Regions from separate parts of the Homo sapiens genome. Here all the other regions are linked to region 2. Evidence: fine-mapped expression QTL. A gene starts in region 2. Each other region holds a variant in brackets. All regions are shown on one strand. Distances are from middle to middle.

What was found. PIP is the estimated chance that this variant, and not a neighbour inherited with it, causes the effect.
Region 1: its variant is fine-mapped to the expression of KLRB1 in monocytes (BLUEPRINT, PIP 0.95).
Region 3: its variant is fine-mapped to the expression of KLRB1 in testis (GTEx, PIP above 0.99).

The regions. Positions count from the first base shown.
Region 1 is chr12:10,335,048-10,343,230 of GRCh38, reverse strand. It overlaps LINC02617 (long intergenic non-protein coding RNA 2617), which reads left to right and starts at 4,939. Exons shown (of 3, transcript NR_159946.1): 1 at 4,939-5,186; 2 at 6,922-7,119. RefSeq lists enhancers at 4,045-4,624, 4,625-5,203. The variant G/A (reference allele first, on the strand shown) is at 3,602.
Region 2 is chr12:9,603,802-9,611,984 of GRCh38, reverse strand. It overlaps KLRB1 (killer cell lectin like receptor B1), which reads left to right and starts at 4,069. Exons shown (of 6, transcript NM_002258.3): 1 at 4,069-4,230. The coding sequence starts at 4,146.
Region 3 is chr12:9,463,438-9,471,620 of GRCh38, reverse strand. It overlaps the pseudogene OVOS1P. Among named protein-coding and RNA genes, the nearest start is that of LINC02367, 100 kb to the right of the region's middle. RefSeq lists a silencer at 2,315-2,364. The variant G/A (reference allele first, on the strand shown) is at 4,932.

The sequences.
Region 1 (8,183 bases), 730 kb before region 2:
ACAAAATATTAGAAAATGAAAGTAGATAAATAAGACCATATTCTATAACACCATAAACTATTAAATACCTAAGAAAAAAATCTAACAAGAATTTTGTCAGACATTATTGCTAAAATTGGTGAAGTTTTTCTGTGAAAAAGTAAAGGCAGGCCAGGCGCGGTGGCTCACGCTTGTAATCCCAGCACTTTGAGAGGCCAAGCCAGGCGGATCACGAGGTCAGGAGATCAAGACCATCCTGGCTAACACGGTGAAACCCCGTCTCTACTAAAAAAATACAAAAAATTAGCCAGGCGTGGTGGCGGGCGCCTGTAGTCCCAGCTACTCGGGAGGCTGAGGCAGGAGAATGGCGTGAACCTGGAAGGCAGAGCTTGCAGTGAGCGGAGATCATGCCACTGCACTCCAGCCCAGGCAACAGAGCGAGACCCCGTCTCAAAAAAAAAAAAAAAAAAAAAGTAAAGGCAACCTAAATAAATAGACAGATAATTTTTGTTCATGGATTGGAAGATTCAGCACGGTTAAGGTGTTTGTTCTCTTCTAATACATGTAGAATCTAGAAATATAGCTTCCATACAATTTCAATATAAAATCCAGTCTGTGTGTATGTATGCAAAATACAAGGTAATTTACACACGCAAAAAACTTAGAAAATATATGTATATTATATGTATGCAAATATATATAATTAATAAATGGTAGCCAAAGGCTTAACAGACATTATACAGAAGAGGACATCCAAATGACCAAAAAGTTATAGGTGCCATTAATCATAAGAGAATTCAGATTTAAGCTACAATTATATGCCAATGTATAATATGGCCCAAAATATGTGAAGCTTAAAAAAAAAAAAGATCAACAATAGAAGTGTTGGCAAGGAAGCAGGCAATGTTACTGAAACAGCCATTGCTTACTGCACAGAAAGCAAACCACTGAGACAAGTGTTGCCAGAGAAGAAGGGTTTATTTGGGTGCCGCAGCTGAGGAGATGGGAAGTCAGTCTCAAATTCATCTCCTCAATTGACTAAAATTAGAGGTTTATGTAGCAGGAAAAAAAAAATGTAACTGTATGTGGGAAAATAGGAATTAGGGAGGGGTAAGGAAGAGGAGTTGGTCAACAGGAAGCAGGTGGTTGGTTAGGCAACTATGATGGGTTAGGTGTCTGGCTCTCATAGTCCAGATGTGGTGATCTGGTAAGTTTCAGTTCCTTGATACTTTCTGGGAGGTCTGATGGTTGGTTTCCTAGGAAGGAAACTCAGATTAGACAAATGTAGGTTTCTCAAGTTTTAAGACTGAGAGGGTCAATTTCTATGTTTGTTTAAAAGAAACAATAAACATCAGTTCTGTGGGACAATTTGGCTGGTTTCTGCAACAGAGAGTCATATAAAACCACTGGTAAAATTATACATTTTTCCCAGCACTTTGGAAAACTGTTTGGGATTACCTTCTAGATCTAAATACATGCCTCCACTATGACTTAGAAATTTATTTTTTCAATATGCATGTAAGGGAAATGAGGATACATATCCACTAAAAGCGTACATGTACAAGAAAAATAAAAATGTTTAGAGAAGTTTTATTCATAATATTAAAAAATAGGTAATAACTAAAGTGGCCATCACGAGTAGAACAATAGAAGCAAATTGTTGTATATTCATATAATGGAATTCTACTGGTAATAAAAAGTATCACACATAGGCATGAGCAAAGACTTCATGATGAAGATGTCAAAAGCAATTGTGACAAAACCAAAAATTGACACAAAAAATTGACAAACCTGATTAAACTAAAGAGCTTCTGCACAGCAAAGGAAACTATTATCAGAGTGAACAGATAACCTATGGAATGGGAGAATAGTTTTGCAATCCAACTATCTGACCATCGTCTAATGTCCAGCATCTACACAGAACTTAAACAAATTTACAGGAAAGAAACAACCCCATTAAAAAGTGGGAAAATGATATGAACAGACATTTCTCAAAAGAAGACTTACATGCGGCCAACAAACATATGAAAAAAAGCTCAACATCACTGATCATTAGAAGAATGCAAAGCAAAACCACAAGATATTATCTCACACCAGTCAGAATGGCTATTGTTAAAAAGTCAAAAAAACAACAGATGCTGGCAAAGTTGTGGAGAAAAAGAAACGCTTTTACACTGTTGATGGGAATGTAAATTAGTTCAACCATTGTGGAAAACAGTGTAGTGACTCCTCAAAGACCTAGAGGCAGAAATACCATTTGACCCAGAAATCCCATTACTGGGTATATATCCAAAGGAATGTAAATCATTCCATTATGAAGATACATGCACATGTAAGTTCACTGAAATACTATTCACAATAACAGACATATGGAATCAACCTAAATGCCCATCAGTGAGAGACTGGATAAAGAAAATGTGGTACATATATACCATGGAATACAATGCAGCCATAAAAAGAAACAAGATCGTGTCCTTCGCAGGGACATGATGGAGCTGGAGGCCATTATCCTCGGCAAACTAATGCAGGAACAGAAAACAAAACACCGCATGGTCTCACTTATAAGACGGAGCTGAATGATGAGAACACATGGACACATTGTGGGGAACAACATACCTTGGGGCCTGTCAGAGGGTGGGTGGGGAGGAGGGAGAGTATCAGGGAAAATGTCTAAGGGATTCTGGCCTTGATACCTAGGTGATGGGATGATCTGTGCAGCAAACCACCATGGCACATGTTTGCCTCTGTAGCAAACATGCACATTCTGCACATGTACCCCTGACTTTAAAATAAAATTTAAAAAAGTATCACAGACTTTAAGCTGAGAGAAAGGATGCAGATGCAAAGAATATGTACTTCATTATTTCACTTACATGATGTCCACAAAGAGGCAAAAATGATTTACAAAGTTAGACATCAGAATAGTGGTTTTCTTAAGGCTAAAAGAATAATTATTAATAGACACGAGGCATGAAGGAGGCTTTGTTGGTTCTAGGAACAGTCTGTATCTCAAACTGGTTAATAACTGTATGGGTGTATGCATGAATAAAAAATTCATCAAGTACTTATAATTTGTGCACTTTATTTGTGTTATCTCTCAAGTTTAAAAAATGAGGAAATTCGTAAGAGGGGAAGAGTTGATAGTCCTGATGTGTATGAATTGACTTCTAAGCTCTAATTAGAATAAAAAGCAGTTCCATAAATTTAAAAATGGCAGAAATGGTATACTATTTAGGAGCATGTAGATGTAGCAGGATTTTATTTTGGAAGAATAAACTTACACTTATTTGTGTGTGTTTTCCTTATGCCTCTATGCTTCCAATACATTGCTGTTCACTCAGCTAGATTATTCCATGTTAATTTTCTAATTTCATAGTAAAAGCATAAAAGAAAAAGAAAAAAGAAAAAGGTCTCTACTCAGAGAAATATCATGCCACAAACAAAAAGGATTTTTTTAAAGAAAATCTTGTATATAAAAGTGGTCTTCCCCTTCCCAAAGACTAGAAATAAATTCCCAGGAATGCAGGCAAGGGTCAGGGAGGAAGTATCGAGAAAAAGAGAGAAATCAGAAAGGCCTCTGTTAAGTATGACTAATAGGAAGGGGCCAAGCTGGCCGGGCGTG[G/A]TGGCTCATGCTTGTAATTCCAGCACTTTGGGAAGCCAAGGCGGGTGGATCACTTGAGATCAAGAGCCTGGCCAACATGATAAAACCCCATCTCTAATAAAAATACAAAAATTAGGTGGCCATGATGGCACTTGCCTGTAATCCCACCTACTCAGGAGGCTGAGGCTTGAGAATCTCTTGAACCCGAGGTCGGAGGTTGCAGTGAGCTGAGATCGTGCCACTGCACTCCAGCCTGGGTAGCAGAGCAAGCAAGCAAGCAGCCTGGGTGTCAAAAAAAAAAAAAAAAGAAGGAAGGGGCCAAACCATGAAAAAAAAAAGCTGCTCTGCCTTGGGCCACCACTAACCTCTACTCAAGCCAGCATCTTCTGCTATCAGTGCCCTGAAGTGATGTGAGAGCTGAAGGGGCAACAGGAACCTCCAAAGAAGCACAGCTCAGGCTCTAGTTGAGTGAGAAAAACGTGCTCCTTCTTAGGGGAAGGCAGCTTCTGATGTGGACTTCCTTTTGACAGCAGACACCACCATCCTATTTGAGACCATCTGGATCACCACTCCCCATACAACTGTTCATAAGACCGCAAAAAGGCAAATGGATCTCTGGACATCTGATAGGGTGGTGATGTGAAATGGATCACCCTCACCTTTACCTATACTTTGGTGTGGTCAAATATAGAATGAGAACTCTGGTTCTATCACAGAAAACCTCTGGAGCAAATGAAATCTCAAGAGAGAAGGATGGGGAGATGGGACAGGTGGGACAGATTTTGATGATAAGTTCTTTAGTATTTAGGGATATATTTTAATGTTAAGCATTATAAGTACCTCATTTTTATAAGGAGTGTATTTTAAAATTTAAAGTATATTGCTCTGGAAACAGTTAAGCCAAAACTTTGCATATATGCGAGAAATATAGTGCATAAACATGCTAAGTCAGTGTTCAAACATTTTGGCTGATATTTTCTAATTTGCATCTTTCATCATATAACTTGTGTCAGGCCTCTGAGCCTAAGCCAAGCCATCGCATCCCCTGTGACTTGCACATATACGCCCAGATGGCCTGAAGCAACTGAAGAATCACAAAAGAAGTGAATATGCCCTGCCCCACCTTAACTGATGACATTCCACCACAAAAGAAGTGTAAATGGCCGGTCCTTGCCTTAACTGATGACATTACCTTGTGAAAGTCCTTTTCCTGGCTCATCTTGGCTCAAAAATCACCCCCACTGAGCACCTTGCGACCCCCCCACTCCTGCCCGCCAGAGAACAAACCCCCTTTGACTGCAATTTTCCTTTACCTACCCAAATCCTATAAAACGGCCCCACCCTTATCTCCCTTTCCTGACTCTTTTCGGACTCAGCCCGCCTGCACCCAGGTGAAATAAACAGCCATGTTGCTCACACAAAGCCTGTTTGGTGGTCTCTTCATACAGACGCGCATGAAATTTGGTGCCGTGACTCGGATCGGGGGACCTCCCTTGGGAGATCAATCCCCTGTACTCCTGTTCTTTGCTCCGTGAGAAAGATCCACCTATGACCTCAGGTCCTCAGACCGACCAGCCCAAGGAACATCTCACCAATTTTAAATCAGGTAAGTGTCCTCTTCTTACTCTCTTCTCCAACCTCTCTCACTGTCCCTCAACCACTTTCTCCTTTCCACTCTTCAATCTCTCCCTTTTCTTAATTTCTATTCCTTTCATTTTCTGGGAAAGACAAAGGAGACACATTTTATCCATGGACCCAAAACTCCTGCGCCGGTCACGGACTGGGAAGGCAGCCTTCCCTTGGTGTTTAATCATTGCAGGGACACCTCTCTGATTATACACTCACGTTTCAAGGGTGTCAGACCACACAGGGACACCTGCCTTGGTCCTTCACCCTTAGCAGCAAGTCCCGCTTTTCTGGGGAAGGGGCAAGTACCCCAACCCCTTCTCTCCTTGTCTCTACCCCTTCTCTGCTTTTCTGGGACAGGGGCAAGTACCCCTCAACCCCTTCTCCTTCACCCTTAGCGGCAAGTCCCGCTTTTCTATGGGGTAAGAACCCCCAATCCCTTATTTCCGTGCCCCAACCTCTTATATCTCTGCACCCCAATCCCTTATTTCCGCACCCCAACCTCTTATCTCTGTGCCCCAACCCCTTTTCCCACTTTTCTGGAAGGTAAGAACCCCCGAACCCCTTCCCTCCATTTCTCTACTCTCTCTTTTCTCTAGGCTTGCTTCCTTCACTATGGGCAACCTTCCACCCTCCATTCCTCCTTCTACTCCCTTGGCCTGTGTTCTCAAAAACTTAAAACCTCTTCAACTCACACCTGACCTAAAACCTAAATGCCTTATTTTCTTCTGCAATGCCGCTTGACCCCAATACAAACTCGACAGTAGTTCCAAATAGCCAGAAAATGGCACTTTGAATTTTTCCATCCTGCAAAATCTAAATAATTCTTGTCGTAAAATAGGCAAACGGTCTGAGATGCCTGACATCCAGGCATTCTTTTACACATCAGTCCCTCCCTAGTCTCTGTGCCCAGTGCAACTCGTCCCAAATCTTCCTTCTTTCCCTCCCGCCTGTCCCGTCAGTACCAACCCCAAGCGTCGCTGAGTCTTTCTAATCTTCCTTTTCTACAGACCCATCTGACCTCTCCCCTCCTCCCCAGGCTGCTCCTCGCCAGGCTGAGCTAGGTCCCAATTCTTCCTCAGCCTCTGCTCCTCCACCCTATAATCCTTTTATCACCTCCCCTCCTCACACCTGGTCCGGCTTACAGTTTCTTTCCTTGACTAGCCCTCCCCCACCTGCCCAGCAATTTACTCTTAAAAAGGTTCCTGGAGCTAAAGACATAATCAAGGTTAACGCTCCTTTTTCTTTCTCCCAAATCAGAAGTGTTTAGGCTCTTTTTCATCAAATATAAAAATCCAGCCCAGTTCATGGCTCGTTCGGCAGCAACCCTGGGACACTTTACAGCCCTAGACCCTAAAAGGTCAAAAGGCCGTCTTATTCTCAATATACATTTTATTACCCAATCTGCTCCTGACATTAAATAAAACTCCAAAAATTGGAATCTGGCCCTCAAACCCCACAACAGGACTTCATTAACCTCACCTTCAAGGTGTACAATAACAGAAAAAAGTTGCAATTCTTTGCCTCCACTGTGAGACAAACCCCAGCCACATCTCCAGCACACAAGAACTTCCAAACGTCTGAAACGCAGCAGCCAGGCATTCCTCCAGAACCTCCTCCCCCAGGAGCTTGCTACACATGCTGGAAATCTGGCCACTGGGCCAAGGAATGCCTGCAGCCTGGGATTCCTCCTAAGCCACGTCCCATCTGTGTAGGACACCACTGAAAATCGGACTGTTCAACTCACCTGGCAGCCACTCCCAGAGCCCCTGGAACTCTGGCCCAAGGCTCTCTGACTGACTCCTTCCCAGATTTTCTCAGCTTAGCAGCTGAAGACTGACGCTGCCGGATCGCCTCGGAAGCCCCCTAGACCATCACGGACGCCGAGCTTCCGGTAACTCTCACAGTGGAAGGTAAGCCCGTCCCCTTCTTAATCAATACAGAGGTTACCCACTCCACATTACCTTCTTTTCAAGGGCCTGTTTCCCTTGCCTCCATAACTGTTGTAAGTACTGATGGCCAGGCTTCTAAACCTCTTAAAACTCCCCAACTCTGGTGCCAACTTAGACAATACTCTTTCAAGCACTCCTTTTTAGTTATCCCCACCTGCCCAGTTCCCTTATTAGGCTGAGACACTTTAACTAAATTATCTGCTTCCCTGACTACTCCTGGATTACAGCTATATCTCATTGCCGCCCTTCTTCCCAATCCAAAGCCTCCTTTGCGTCCTCCTCTTGTATCCCCCCACCTTAACCCACAAGTATAAGATACCTCTACTCCCTCCTTGGTGACCGATCATGCACCCCTTACCATCTCATTAAAACCTAATCACCCTTACCCCACTCAACGCCAATATCCCATCCCGCAGCACGCTTTAAAAAGATTAAAGCCTGTTATCACTCGCCTGCTACAGCATAGCCTTTTAAAGCCTATAAACTCTCCTTACAATTCCCCCATTTTACCTGTCCTAAAACCAGACAAGCCTTACAAGTTAGTTCAGGATCTGCGCCTTAGCAACCAAATTGTTTTGCCTATCCACCCTGCAGTGCCCAACCCGTACACTCTTTTGTCCTCAATACCTTCCTCCACAACTCACTGTTCCGTGCTTGATCTTAAAGATGCTTTTTTCACTATTCCCCTGCACCTCTCGTCCCAGCCTCTCTTCGCTTTCACTTAGACTGACCCTGACACCCATTAGGCTCAGCAAATTACCTAGGCTGTACTGCTGCAAGGCTTAGTAGACAGCCCCCATTACTTCAGTCAAGCCCAAATTTCATCCTCATCTGTTACCTATCTCGGCATAATTCTCATAAAAACACACGTGCTCTCCCAGCTGATTGTGTCCCATTAATCTCCCAAACTTCAATCCCTTACAAAACAACTCCTTTCCTTCCTAGGCATAGTTAGTGAGGTCAGAATTCTTACACAAGAGCCAGGACCACACCCTGTAGCCTTTCTGTGCAAACAACTTGACCTT
Region 2 (8,183 bases):
CTTCTTGACGATTATCTTTGTGGTATTCTCTGTATTTCCTGAATTTGAATGTTGGCCTGCCTTGCTATGTTGGGGAAGTTCTGGATAATATCCTGAAGAGTGTTTTCCAACTTGGTTCCATTCTTCCCATCACTTTCAGGTACACCAGTCAGACATAGATTTGGTCTTTTCACATAGTCCCACATTTCTTGGAGGCTTCATTCATTTCTTTTTACTCTTTTTTCTCTAAACTTCTCTTCTGGCTTCATTTCATTCATTTGATCTTCAATCCCTGACACCCTTTCTTCCACTTGATCAAATTGGCTACTGAATCTTGTGCATGCATCATGTAGTTCTCGTGCCATGGTTTTCAGCTCCATCAGGTCGTTTAAGGTCTTCTCTACACTGTTTATTCTAGTTAGCCATTTGTCTAATCTTTTTTCAAGGTTTTTAGCTTCTTTGCGATGGGTTCGAACTCCTCCTTTAGCTCGGAGAAGTTTGTTATTACCAATCGCCTGAAGCCATCTTCTCTCAACTCATCAAAGTCATTCTCCATGCAGCTTTGTTCTGTTGCTGGTGAGGAGCTGCATTCCTTTTGAGGAGAAGAGGCACTCTGATTTTTAGAATTTTTGGCTTTTCTGCTCTGGTTTCTCCCCATCTTTGTGATTTTATCTACCATTGGTCTTTGATGATGGTGACACACAGATGGTGTTTTGGTTTGGATGTCCTTTCTGTTTGTTCGTTTTCCTTCTTACAGTCAGGACCCTCAGCTGCAGGTCTGCTGGAGGCTGCTGGAGGTGCACTCCAGTCCCTGTTTGCCTGGGTATCACCAGTGGAGACTGCAGAACAGCAAATATTGCAGTACGGCAAATGTTGCTGCCTGATCCTTCCTCTGGAAGCTTCATCTCAGAGGGACACCTGGCTGTATGAGGTGTCAGTCAGCTCCTACTGGGAGGTGTCTCCCAGTTAGGCTACTCGGGCTCAGGGACCCACTAGAGGAGGCAGTCTGTCTGTTCTCAGATCTCAAACTCCATGCTCAGAGAACCACTACTCTCTCCCACGCTGTCAGACAGGGATGTTTAAGTCTGCAGAAGTTTCTTCTGCATTTTGTTCAGCTATGCCCTGCCCTCAGAGGTGGAGTCGACAGAGGCAGGCAGGCCTCCTTGAGCTGCAGTGGGCTCCACCCAGTTTGAGCTTCCTGGCAGCTTTGTTTACCTGCTCAAGCCTCAGCAATGGTGGATGCCCCTCCCGTAGCCTCGCTGCCACCTTGCAGTTTGATCTCAGACTGATGTGCTAGCAGTGAGCAAGGCTCTGTGGGCATGGGACCCTCCGAGCCAGGCATGGGATATAATCTCCTGGTGTGCCATTTGCTAAGACCATTGGAAAAGTGCAGTATTAGGGTGGGAGTGTCCTGATTTTCCAGGTACCGTCTGTCATAGCTTCCCTTGGCTAGGAAAGGGAATTCCCCAATCCCTTGCGCTTCCTTGGTGAGGCAATGCCCCACCCTGCACCATGGGCTGTCCCCACTGTCTGCCAAGCCCCAGTGAGATGAACCCAGTACCTCAGTTGGAAATGCAGAAATCACCAATCTTCTGTGTCGCTCACGCTGGGAGCTATAGACTGGAGCTGTTCCTATTTGGCCATCTTGGAACCCAATCCACCTAAGGTCTTGCTCTAAGGTTCTATGCCTGAAAATCTTTGAAAGAGGTGAAGGACCTCTTCAAGGAGAAATACAAACCACTGCTCAATGAAATAAAAGAGGACACAAATAAATGGAAGATCATTCTATGCTTACGGATAGGAAGAATCAGTATTGTGAATATGGCCATACTGCCCAAGGTAATTTATAGATTCAATGCCATCCCCATCAAGCTACCAATGACTTTCTTCACAGAATTGGAAAAAACTACTTTAAAGTTCATATGGAACCAAAAAAGGTCCCACATTGCCAAGACAAACCTAAGTCAAAAGAACAAAGCTGGAGGCATCACGCTACCTGACTTCAAACTATACTCCAAGGCAACAGCAACCAAAACAACATGGTACTGGTACCAAAACAGAGATATAGACCAATGGAACAGAACAGAGCCCCCGGAAATAATACCACATATCTACAACCATCTGATCTTTGACAAATCTGACAAAAACGAGAAATGGGGAAAGGATTCCCTATTTAATAAATGGTGCTGGGAAAACTGGCTAGCCATATATAGAAAGCTGAAACTGGATCCCTTCCTTACACCTTATAAAAAATTAATTCAAGATGGATTAAAAACTTAAATGTTAGATCTAAAACCATAAAAACCCTAGAAGAAAACCTAGGCAATACCATTCAGGCAACAGGCATGGGAAGGACTTCATGACTAAAACACCAATAACAATGGCAACAAAAGCCAAAATTGACCAATGGGATCTAACTAAATTAAAGAGCTTCTGCACAGCAAAAGAAACTACCATCAGAGTGAACAGACAACCTACAGAATGGGAGAAAATTTTTACAATCTACCCATCTGACAAACGGCTAATATCCAGAATCTACAAAGAACTTACATAAATTTACAAGAAAAAATCAACCAACCCCATCAAAAAATGGGCAAAGGATATGAACAGACACTTCTCAAAAGAAAACATTTATGCAGGCAACAGACACATGAAAAAATGCTCATCATCACTGGCCATCAGAGAAATGCAAATCTAAACCACAATGAGATACCATCTCACACCAGTTAGAATGACAGTCATTAAAAAGTCAGGAAAAAACAGGTGCTGGAGAGGATGTGGAGAAATAGGAACACTTTTACACTGTTGGTGGGACTCTAAACTAGTTCAACCATTGTGGAAGACAGTGTGGCGATTCCTCGAGGGACTAGAACTAGAATTTGACCCAGCCATCTCATTACTGGGTATATACCCAAAGGATTATAAATCACGCTGCTATAAAGACACATGCACACATATGTTTATTGTGGCACTATTCACAATAGCAAAGACTCGTGAACCATCCCAAATGTCTATCAATGATAGACTGGATTAAGAATATATGGCACATATGCACCATGGAATAGTATGCAGCCATAAAAAAGGATGAGTTCATGTCCTTTGTAGGGACATGGATGAAGCTGGAAACCATCATTCTGAGCAAACTATTGCAAGGACAGAAAACCAAACACCGCATGTTCTCACTCATAGGTTGGAATTGAACAATGAGAATATTTGGACACAGGGAGGGGAACACCACACACCGGGGCCTGTCGTGGGGTGGGGGGAGGGGGGAGGGATAGCATTAGGAGATATACCTAATGTAAATGACAAGTTAACGGGTGCAGCACACCAACATGGCACATGTATACATATGTAACAAACCTGTACATTGTGAACTTAAAGTATAATAATAATAAAAAAAGGTAAAAAAAAAAAAGTAGACACATACTATAATCACCTTGAAAAAAAAAGAAAGTCTTTCAAAGAGATAAAAAATTCCATATACTCCACTTCCTACAATTCTGGCAGTTTCCAAATACTTTTACTTATGTGAAAATGCTATCATATCCAAGAGTGCCTTTAGAGCTAAGCTAACAGTAGGCTACTGATCTTTAGCACATTGCTTTTTCTGTTGTGTTATTCAGGGGGCTTTCTCACATTTATGTTTCCATTTTTCACATTTCACAACTTTCTTTGGAGCACAGATATTTCAGGAAGATTTTAGAGCCTTTGAATAGCATTATGGACTTTTTTGCATTAATTTTTACTTTTACAAAATTGTGCTAAATATTATTTCTGTTAATTAGTGAGTTTTGTTGGGGGCCCCTTAAATTGGAACCCCAGGCTATGCCTCATTTGCTTCACTCTGGTCCTGGCCCTGAGAGAGGAACACAAAAGGGATGGTTAGAAAAACAAGAACAAATGAGCCTCCCAGAATTTTCTCAAACAACAGGCCAGTTAATTAAGGAAAGTAGATATTACATAGCTAGGTATAATGAACATGCAGTCAGTGGATTGTCTCAGTAATTTATGGAGATAACCACCAACAAAAAGTGTATGTGGGTGGGGACAAAAGAGAGACAACAAAGTACTGCAGGCAGAAAGCTTCCTTTTGCTGATTTTGCCTCACAGAATTGAGAGTTTGTTCTTACACACAAGTTTAATGCCACCTTCCTCTGTCTGCCATGGACCAACAAGCAATATATGCTGAGTTAAACTTACCCACAGACTCAGGCCCAGAAAGTTCTTCACCTTCATCTCTTCCTCGGGGTAAGTGGCTTTAATTTTCCTTTCGGCATTTGTATGTCTTCCAGAATTAGATCTTCCTGTTACATTTATGGCTTTAAATCATTGCTTTAAAGATGAGCAGTAGTTTTATATTAATGTTTAACGGGTGTTGCATGGCTTGCCTGTAGATAATCACAACTTTGGGAAAAAAAATTTAAACCTCATACATTTATTTTTTTCAATCAAGTTAGCATGAAAAGCAAACATCACTTGTCTTACTGAGCCTTGGTTAAAAGACTCTGAACACTTTAGGCTACCCTGGGCACACTGCCTATTGGTTACCCCTGCTCTACAGGGATGGAAAGAAGGAAGAAAGAAAGAAAGAAAGAAAAGAAAGAAAGAAAGAAAGAAAGAAAGAAAGAAAGAAAGAAAGAAAGAAAGGAAGAAAGAAAGAAAGAAAGGAAAGAAAGAGAAAGAAAAGAAGAAAGAAAGAAAGGAGAGAAAGAAAAAGAAAGAGAGAGAAAGGAAAGGAAAGAAAGAAAAAGAGAAGGAGGAAGGAAGGAAGGATGGAAGGAAGGAAGGAAAAATATTTTACATGTATGAACTAAGGAATATTTAAGACACATTGCAAACTTGCTGTAATAACAACCTACGTTATTCCAAATTCCTCTACAAAATATCAATACTATGATTAAGTCCCAGTGCATTTTCATCCATAATATTCCTTTCAGAATACAACGTGTAGGCCAGTTGCAGTGGCTCATGCCTGTAATCCCAACACTTTGGTAGGCTAAGGTGATTTGCTTGAGTCCAGGAGTTTAAGGCCAGCCTGGGCAATGTGGCAAAACCTCATCTCTACAAACAATACAAAAAAATAGCCAAGTGTGGGGCACGTGCCTGTGGTCCTAGCTACTCGGGAGGCTGAGGTGAGAGGATTGCTTGAGCCCAAGAGATCAAGGCTGCAGTGAGCTGTAATTGTGCCACTGTACTCCAGCCTGGGTGACACAGCAAGACTATCTCAAAAAAAAAAAAAAAATATATATATATATATATATATATATACTTTTTATACATATATTTTATATATTTTATATATATATATATACTTTTTATACATATATTTTATATATTTTATATATATATATATAAAGTGTAGGCTTAATGAGTAACATACTTCACTCTCTCAAGAGAGGGGAACACTTTCTGGAAAAAAAATCATATTCAAGATCAAAGATTTGAATATCATTACTACCTGATAGTTTCTAGTTTGAAAAGTATCACAGCTTAGAAAGAGACAAGCCACAAAAATACTCGAGCATATCAGTAACGAACCTACTTACCATTTGTTGAAACTGGCACTTTCCTGTGTCTCTGAAGAGTTAGCATTCTGAGTGAAAGAAGCGGGGAACACCAATGTGAGGTAACACATGATGGATAGCATGGCCTGTGGATGGATGGGAAGAAACTAGAAACTGAGGCAGAAAATCAGCATGAAATTATTATGACACATTATTATTTTCTGATATCTAACTGAATTTACTATCATTGATAATATTACAATTGTTTACCAATCTGATATTCATTCCATGTCATGCCAAGCATTTGACTTGTGCTGTTTTAAGACTGTTTAAGTTTTAAACTATTGAATTCTCAAAGTTTTAAGTCAAGAAGAAAGTCTTAGAGCCGTCAATTAAGTTTCAGTATAATTTTCACATAAGAGTAGAGGAAATCAGAGGGTTCTAATAACTATAGGGAGGATTTGGTTGAGTAACATTTTTTTTTAAAGAAAAGAGTAAGTCTTTCTTTTCCTCTATTCATATCTAGCAAAAGGTGGAAAGTGGGCTTTTGTCAGAAAATGAATATAGAGGTAGTGAGACTCTTCCCAAATGTTGCTATGATCCCAAACCAATGGATGCAGAAATTTTTTCTACTTGGATTGTAATAATTATCCTATAAAATGTCATTCTGAGAGTAAACCTGAAGAAAAAATAAGAGTAGAATAAAGCCAGAGCAAAATATGTGACTATAGAACACTGGTCTGATATTGAATGACAGTAAAACCACTATTGGTCTCTGGCTAAACTGCTGAGGCTGTGGTCACTCTGTAGCAAGCACGGTGATTGTGTCTAAGGCAGTCAACAAAACCAGAAGGAGAGATGTGAGTGATAACCGATCTTGCTTATGGCCAAATGGCCAAGGGTTTGGTCTGTTAGAAAAGTGGATAAGGTGTTTGCAAAAATGCCCCTAGAGTTTATTCATTCATTAAAAAATAAGCTCCTACTCTGCACCAGGCATGCTGTGAATACAGCAGTGAACAAAATAGAGAAAATTATTTTCCTTCATAGAGTTTATAGTAAAATAGAGGCACACTTGTGGAAGACAGTATGGCGATTCCTTAAGGATCTAGAGCTAGAAATACCATTTGACCCAGTGATCCCACTACTGGGTATATACTCAAAGGATAATAAATCATGCTGCTATAAAGACACATGCACACGTATGTTTATTGCGGCAGCATTCACAATAGCAAAGACTTGGAACCAACCCAAATGTCCATCATTGATAGACTGGATTGAGAAAATGTGGCACATATACACCATGGAATACTGTGCAGCCATAAAAAAGGATGATTTCATGTCCTTTGTAGGGACATGGATGAGGCTGGAAACCATCATTCTGAGCAAACTATCACAAGGACAGAAAGCCAAACACCGCATATTCTCACTCATAGTGGGAATTGAACAATGAGAACACATGGACACAGGGCAGGGAACATCACACACCAGGGCCTGTTGTGGGGTGGGGGTAGGGAGAAGGGATAGCACTAGGAGAAATACCTAATGTAAATGACGAGTTAACGGGTGCAACAAACCAACATGGCACATGTATACATATGTAACAAACCTGCACATTGTGCCCATGTACCCTAGAACTTAAAGTATAATAAAAAATAAAAATTAAAAAAATGGAGGCACACCATCAATAAAATAAACAAATAACTAAGTCAGTATAAAAGATGAGACGGTGTTAATGTTATTGAGAAAGATTTGAATATAGGATTTAACTTTCGGGGAGGGTAGCATATCAAACAGAATAATCAAGGAAGGCCTCCCTGAGAAGATGACATTGAGTCAAAACCTGACAGAAGTGAGGGACAAAGACATAAGCCCCTGAGAGAGAAGCCTTCTAGGAAGGTGACCAACAAGTGCAAACACATCGAAATGAAAACACGCCTGTGGTATTGTAGGAGGCATCTGCGTGGAGAGTGAGCGTATGGAGGCCAGATGGGGTGAGGGCAAAATGTGAAACCACTATTGGACTCTGGCTAAACTGTTGAGGCTATGGTCACTCTGTAGCATGGTGATTGTGTCTAAGGCAGTCAACAAAACCAGAGAGATGTGAGTGATAACATCCAACAGAAGTGGGCGCCAGCTTAAATAGGGACATATGAGCCATTCTACAGACTCAGATTTGCCTGATGAAAAGCCATTGGAAGGTTTAGAATAATGAAATGAGATGATTTCACATACTTTTTAAACTCAAATGGAGAACAGCCATAGGTAGGTATTTCCAGATAGCTAACGTCCGCCGGACCCCTGTAGTGATTCATTGTAACTTCATTAATTCTAATGTCACGTGGTGCCACAGAAACACAGTACAGGAGTACATTCCTCCCAGACACAGTACACTCCACTCAACTCCTTACATTTTAGCATGAATGAATAACGATTTTTAAAAGTCACCAAGTTGCCTTTTACCTATAGTTAAAAAAAAAAAACAACTTTTAGAAAAAAAGAACTGCTGTTCATTGAACAGTTACCATGTGCCAGACACTGTGCCCAGCATTTAGAAGAATTGTTTCATATAATCCTCTCCAAAATATTATGACATAGATAATATTCCACATTTCACAGATGAGGAAATCTGTGGGTTATGAAGGTTGAACGTATTTTCCAAAATAACATGTTCACATTCAGATTTGCTAGATCGGAAAG
Region 3 (8,183 bases), 140 kb after region 2:
AAATGCACAAAATGTGCTGAGCTTTGCTGGGCACATAGATGTCCCACAAGACAATTTCATTGCCTTGATTCGGGTGTCTAGGTGCGGGCGGGGGATGATATGGAGGGTGGCAGGTAGGGAGCGTCCTTATAGCTGTAGTCAGGGAAAACTGAAATAGTCAGTTGCTTCTCCGAGAGCAGCCGTGCCACCTCTGAAGCACCAGTAACTGGCAGGGCTGTCTGTCCCCTTTGGGCTGCAACCTGGCTTCAATTCCAACCCTGACATTGTGTGCTTCTGAAGCCTTCTCCTCTTGTTTTGACACCTGAAGTCCCCCTGTATATCCTAGACTTCTCAGTCTACCAGAGCATTCACCTTACTTTCTTCATCCCACCCTGCCTTTGATAATGATGCCTAAGTCCCCGAGACAGGAGGAAGTCTTCCCCAGAAAGGTACTATAGCAGCACTTATACCCATGTTTAATGTCCCAGAAACCTTGTGTTCAAGTAATGCTTTCTCAAGGGTCTTATGTCTTTTCTGTTAGAGCTTCAGCCCCGTTCTTGTGTTCTGTTCTAAGTGAATGAAACGAACATGACGCTGTAGACATTGATGGGTTTGAAGGCCTAAAACGAACAAGTTTTGTTGAACCAAGATTCTTTCTCGTCTTTGTCCTTTTCATGCTAAGGAATTTCCTGTCTCCATTTCTTCTGTTCCCACCCTACTCTACACCCTCATGATTCCCTAACAGGACCACTTTAACAGCCTCCCAACACCCTCTTCCTCTTCTCTATACGATTCTGCTCTTAGCAGCCAGATTCTCTTTAGAACACGCATGCTGGAACATGCCACTCCTTGCTTTAAACCCCTCAGCAGCTCCCTACTGCTCTTAGGGTCTCAGTCTGCTCCCATATTCTCACTCACCCAACTCAGAATGTCCTGACCTCTGAGGCCTCTCACCCTTAGCCTACACCACTTCCTGCCCCTCTGGGAACTGCAGTCACACTGGTACTTTCTATGACACAAAGAGACCCCCACACACACCATGTGGAAGTCTTCTGCCCTTGCCCTGTGTGTTCCTAGGCTGGCTCTCAACTTCGGGTCTGAGCTGGAGCATCACCTTCTCAGAGAAGCATCCCCTGATGGGCCTAAGGGCTCCTCCCCAGTCATTTGGTCTCAGAACTCCCCTCAACTTCCTCCCTTTTACTTAATTTGCATTTAACTGCTGATTTGTCTTTCCCCCACCAGAATGCTAACTTCTCAAGGGTGGTAATCTGTTTTTCTTGTCCTCCCCTGGATCCCCAGCCCCTAGCAGTGCCTGGTAATAGTAAGTCCTCAATATATAGTTGCTGAATGAATTTATGATTACTTTTTGTAACAGTGAAAGATTGCAAAGAATCTAATTATTCAGAAATAGGGTATTTACCAAAACAATTATGATAGAATTAGTCAGATGTGGTGGCTCACACCTATAGTCCCAATGACTCAGGAGGCTGAGGTAGGAGGATCACCTGAGCCCAGAAGGTTGAGGCTGCAGTGAGATATGATCACACCATTATACTTTAGCCTGGGCGACTGGTTGAGGCCCTGTTTTTTTTTAAAAAAAGTTATGGTAGAATCATGTGATTGCCTGTTATGCTGTATAGAGGAATATATTATGGAATGAAAAAAATTACTAGTCCTATTTTGTGAAAAAAAAATCTATCAACATTTGGTTGTTTTTTGTTGTTTGTTTGTTTGTTTGTTTGGTTGCTGTTTTAAAAAAAGACTGCAAGGACAGCTACCAAATATTAGCAGTGTTATCTCTGGGATGAGTGATTTTTCTTCTTTTCCTTAAAATAAATTGTGTATTAAGTATTTCCTACAGTGAAACAAGTATTGCTTTTATAGTGCAAACATGATTCTAAGCAGAGCTGTGCAATGCTGACCTGGCATGGGGTGGGAAGAAGGGGGTTAGGGAGGCGGTGCTTAGGGTCCAGAGTCTGAGTTGGCCTCATTCTGGTTTCAGCTCTGGAAGGAGTGAAGAATGAGTCCCCGGAGCCCATCCAGTCCCTCATGGATGACATACTGAGGGCTCAGGAAGATGCCCCCTTGCAACCTGCCTCAGCTTCCAGGCTGAGTCACCTAAGCAGCTTCTTTCAGAAAGCCTCTTGTGCCACAGGCACACTCAGGAAGAAGTACATCTTCAATTGAACAAGAAATAATATGAATAAAAAATGTAAAGAATAAAAAATGCACTGCCACACTGGTGGGGCAGGAGGGTGAAAGTCGTGCCCCTCACAATAGGTAATGTCTATAAAAGGACAACCGAGGCCAGCACCAAAGTTCACCTGCAGAAGGCGGGTCTGTCTCAACACCAGCTGCCAGTCACTGTGAACCTTTAGAATTGGGGCTGTAGCTTCTTCCAGTTGTTTGCCCAGATGTCAGTGAGACCACTCCATGGCAGACAGGGGGAGCTGTGTGTCAGGGAAGTCCCAGCCACTAGGACAAGCCGCACTCCAGGCAGACGTTTCTGCTCTTGTGCAAAGAACAGCGCAATCCATTCAAGTTCACAGGGGCAGGTGGCACTTGAAAATGTCAGGGTCAACTTGCAGGGCAGAAGTTAGCAGGGAAGTCTTCCTGGGGGAGTGGGAGAGCCCAGCAGAGTTTAGGAGGAGAGAAGGGCGACATCGGGGCAATCCTCTGAGTCTCTCTTTCCTCCTCAGGAACTGTTCAGGAAGACCCTGCAATCTCTCTGCAGGCTCATGGGAGCTCCCAGAACTGAAGCAACATACAGATCCAGGCCACTCTAAGCTCTGCCTGCATTTTCACAGGGCACATTCTTGTGTATATGTGTGTGTGTGTGTTTGGTGCGTGTGTGTCTGTGTGTGTGTTCTCTTCTTAATAAAACCAGCAATCACTGGACTAAGTAGGGCCCACTTTTATCCACTGAGCTCCCCTTACCTTGGTAACATCTGCAAAGACCCTATTTTCAAACAAGGTCGCATTCCGGGTTCTGAGTGGACATGAACTTTTTCAACCCAGTACATCTGGGAACAGAGCAGTCAAGGGTAGAAGAGATCAACCTGAGGATGAGGTTTGGATGCAGAGTTTTGAGAGAAGGGTGATCAGAGCTAGGGTCTAAGCAACATTGGTCTGCTCCCTTGGAGGAGAATTTTCCCTTTTTCCTTCTGCCCTTTAGCCAGTGCTGCGGCCACCTCCTCTCTCATAGCTGGCATTTAAAAGCCAAATGGATGCCACAACCTTCTAATGCATCTAGATATGCAGCAAAAATATTCAAAAAATTCCAGCAAGGTCAAAATAATCTCAGGCCTAGATTTGCCACCAGTGCCCTCTTCTGGGCAGCTTTATTTTATAGTAGTGTCACAAAACACTTGTTTGTCAATATATGTATTTGTGCACTAAGTGTCACCAGAAAATATATTTATGTCTGTTGGTTACAGCCTAAACAGTTTAAGAAACCATGTTTAGATGTTTTCCCAGTCAGGAAAGGCCAAACTAAAAAGGGGTGTGTGTGTGTGTGTGTGTGTGTGTGTGTGTGTGAAAAAGAGAGATGGGGGCCCCCATTCCACTAAGAAGAAGGCCAAACTAAAAAGGGCTGTGTGTGTGTGTGTGTGTGTGTGTGTGTGAAAAAGAGAGATGGGGGCCCCCATTCCACTAAGAAGATGACAGAGGCCGTGCAGGTTTTTTCTCTGTGATATCCCCTCCTCCTACAAATCATGCCCAGAGGAGGGATCTTGAGGACCTGCCCCTGCCTCCCCAGACCCATCTCCACACCCAGGCCATCCTGGGCAGAGGACAGCAGAGCTCACATCTCTGTGGAGAGCAGACTGGGCTCACTGCAGGCCTCTGTGTCATTGTTCATCTTCACTTCATAAGTCTCATTCTGAGACCTCTCCTGACACACCATGGCTATCTGGCTCTCCTGGGAAAAGCACTTACAACATTCAAGATAGAGAAAATCATCAGCAGCTGCCAACCCTCCTCCCCTTCCCTCAGCAAGTAAGGCATCACGCATGCACATATGCACACATGCACAAACACATGAACTTGTGTATATACACACACACAGGCACACACACACATGAACATGCATGCAATTTCTGTGGCCTCATTTTCTTGTGATGGCTGATGAAGGCATGACGCCATGGAAGTGTTAAGATTAGGGAGAGGGTTCCATGTGGGAGGATGTCTGGTGTGGATCCAAGGAGATCTGAGTCCTGACTCCAATTCACTTACCCTCTGGCCCAAGTCACTTAGCCCACCCCATGCCTCAGTTTCTCTTTCTATGAAATAGGAGTGACATATGCCCTGCCTGACTCAGAGGCCTGTTGTGAGTTACAAATAAAGCAACAGATAAGACGGCGCTTTGAGACTGGGAAAAGTCAGCTTTGACCTAACGGTCCTGGGCTGTGCCATAAAGGGCAGGGTGGGCCTGTGAGGAGGCCCACCTGTGAGGGCCTGCCCTCCCACCCCTACCTGCAACAGCTGAGCCTTTGGGCATTAGTTTGGCACAGCTGAGATGTCTGTGGTATCCTGTTTTGATGGTGCCCTTGATTCTGACACCAGCTCCCTGCAGTAAAGGCACAGAAAGGAAACCTCACCTAGGAGGGTTTGCTCTCCCAAGCAGAGGGCAGTGAGCCGGAGTCCCTACTGAGCCTGAATCCTTCCTGAACTCCTGACCTGCCTTTTACCAGAACATGTCTTTCCCTATGGGGACACAGTCCTCTGCTCACTGGGTCCTGTCTTCTTCAGCTCTGAGCCATGAGCTCTTCCTTTTCCTGTTTGTGCTCAGCTCAGTGCCTCTCTCCATCTTTATTCCCAGACCCCAGAAGGCATTAAGGGAAGATCCCAGTCCATCTTCTTGGAGCTGAGAGCTGGATCAGTGCCCCTGGCTTTGAGGCAGGGTAGGGGCAGTTCTCTCTCAGGGAGGCCTGCAGATCGCCACCTGCCCCACG[G/A]TGGGAAGGAAAGATGACAGGTGGGAGCTCCAGGTGGATTGGGAGGGGAGGGAGATGGAGTGGGCTTTGGCAAGGCATGGGGGGATAAGCTTGAGATGCAGAGTGGCAGCAGGCAGGCAACAGCATTTCTGGAGACCACCAGGCACAGGACGTGCTGGCCTGTCCTCAGGACAAGCAATGCCAGGGCCTGAGCTGCCCTTACCCTTCAAGACGAGGCCCGAGAACTGGAATGTGGGCTATGCTTTTCTTCACCAAACTGAAGCTTGGCACCCTGAGTGTTGTTTGTACCAACTGCAGTAGGCAGACAGGGAACCAACGCTTCCTGAGCACTGACTGTGTGCTGTGCACTGTACTGTGTGCTTTCTGTTTGTTTGTTTCATGGAGAGATGTATCTCTGGGGAGAGGGAAATCCCCTGAGAATCCCCCCTCTCTCCAAAGCCCCCGCCACCCCAGGTTCTCTAAAAATCCCTCTCCCCTTATGTCACAGAGAATAAAGCTTCACGGGAAAATGCCCTTAGAAAGGGGGATTTAATTCACTCTGAGATGCTAAAGATGGCCACGGAGACCTCCTTAAGCAGAGGCTTTCAGGAGACCAACAGAGAAGAAGGCAGTGCAGGGACCCAGCGTGTCCTCAGCCTTGGCTAAATAAACCTGTAATTGATTGAAACATGTCGCAGTCACTTTTTGGTTAACAAGGTCAACGGAGGCACAAGCACCAAAGTCCACCTGAAGAAGTTGGGTCTATCTACGAACCACTTGTGAGTCACTGTGAATATTTAGAACTGGGGGCTAAAGCTTATTCCAGTTGTCTGTCTGGATGTCAGTGAGGCCACTCCATAGTAGATTCTCCCACCTTTGGTTTAATGGGATGGACAACTTTGGATTAGGACTAAGGAGGTAGATTTGATCTTGGAAGATACCTTAGGCTTCTTGTCTCTTATCTCCCTAGGAAACTGTTGGCTGTCAGTATCTATACTAGGGGTAAGCCCAAGTGACAGAACAGTTCTGGAAGCATCTCCTTGAGTTTTCAGGAAAGGTTTCACTGACACAAGAAGAGAGTAGGGTGGCAGAGCAGCATCGGGTTTGGTTTTCAATTCCCTTTTCTATCTCCACACGTGTTGGGTGAAATTCACAGGGTTGCCACACTCCCGTGGGTATATTTGGATTACGGATGAGAGCATAAGAAGGTGGGCTGTGGGATACATACAGTGGAGTGCTGCTGACTACAGCCCCCGTCATGTAAGAAAGCACGTCAGATTGCCATAGAACAAGTTATGCTATTGTTGGAATAACTGAAGTTCATTCTAATTTAGTTTTTAAAATCATTCTGAAACTTTCTCCCCGCTACCGCATAGTAGTTGAAGGGTACTCCGTTTTCCCGTTTTCTGTCCTAACCAAGAAACAGAGAGTGCCTCAACTGTCCTGTGACCCCATCAGCTACACAATTTGCCCTGCAGGCTGGAACCCAAGGTTTCGCTTCGAACATTCCCAGACACCTACAAAGGTGTTTAGGTTGTTGCCCCAAACACTGAGAGGAACTGGCCAGGCCCTGAGCCAAATGCCTTAATCTCTCATCAACTCCATTCCCTGATCCTCGTGCTGCAGACCTCGCTAGGTAGAGCACCTCTTTCCCTAACTGCCTATCTGGAGGAAATGGTGAAACCCAGTTTCTACCTAAGTTCTCGTAATAAATTTGAACTGATCACCCTGGCATCTAGTGCTTCTTTCTTTGGGATTCCAACTGGTCCCATCTTGGGATGGCTTGCGGTACTCCCTTGTGGGAACTCCCCTGATGCCAGCAGTGGCACCCCAGATGCCACTGCTAGGGTGACTCCAGCTGTGAATTCACTGGAAAAGAACACAGGTATTCCTGACTAGTTCTTTATGCTCCTTCAAAGGTCAGAGCTCAATATCGTTGCACCTGATTTCTCATCCACAAAATGGTATTTATAACACCTCTGTGGAACTGTCCTCCAATACTCTTCTTCCTTTTTAAAAAACCATGCATTTGGCTGCCTGGAATGGAGAATATGTTTTCCACCCTCCCTTGCAGCTAGGTGTGGCCACGTAGCTAAGTTCTGACCAAGCAGTGGAAGGCAGAGTCCCATATGGCACTTTCAAGAAGTATTCTTAAAGAGCAAGGGCACATGCATTTCTATCCTGTCTGTCTTCTTCGTGACTAGAATGAAACACGATGCCTGGGGCTAAAGAGTGATCTTAAACCATCAGCAGGAAGTGATATATTAAAAGGCAGAAGAGCCAAAAGATAGAAAGAACCTAGATCACTTATGCTAGCAGAGGTATTCATCATTTTGCACAGTTTACCTTCAGACTTTGTTCATAAGGGGGCAAGGGAGTGTGAGTTTTCTATCACAGGCAAACCCAATCCTGAGGGATTGACTTAATCTATCAACGTTGCTGTGAGGATTTAAGGAGATAATATAAAATCCTTAGCAGTTTTTCTGGCATGAAGTCAGAGGGCAACTTTTTTTTTTTCTCAAAAGTAATGAAATATTAAGGCTATTGAAACTTGGTTCTGAGAACACTGAAAGATATGGAAAGACCATAGAACCTGTTTCCACATTGGCCAGAATGGACTGACATTACATCTTTAAAGTTGGTCATAATCAGAATGTTTTTCACTGCTTCTAAATTGTATGCACTATTGGATAAAACTGGAACAGTACATGGCCAGGTGCGGTGGCTCATGCCTGTAATCCCAGCACTCTGGGAGGCCGAGGCGGGCGGATCACGAGGTCAGGAGATCGAGACCATCCTGGCTAACACGGTGAAACCCCGTTTCTACTAAAAATACAAAAAAAAATGAGCCGGGTGTGGTGGCGGGTGCCTGTAGTCCCAGCTACTTGGGAGGCTGAGGCAAAAGAATGGCGTGAACCCAGGAGGCAGAGCTTGCAGTGAGCAGAAATCACGCCACTGCACTCCAGCCTGGGTGACAGAGAGAGACTCTGTCTCAAAAAAAAAAAAAAAAAACTGTAACAGTACTGACTCCATGTTAGAGAAGAGCTTGTTTGCTTGAATACAGTTATTGCTTTTCCTGAGACTGTAGATTATTCATTAAAAACAGCCTCAGAAATACAGGACCTTCAGCAGACATAAAAGAAAAAACACTGACAAACAACTCTGGGAATGGGCTGAGTGGCTTGATAAGAATAGCCTGATGGTACCTGCAGAAGGTCATACAACACTGACCAAGAAAACAGTGATTGCCTGCCTGCCTGTCTGAGACTTCAC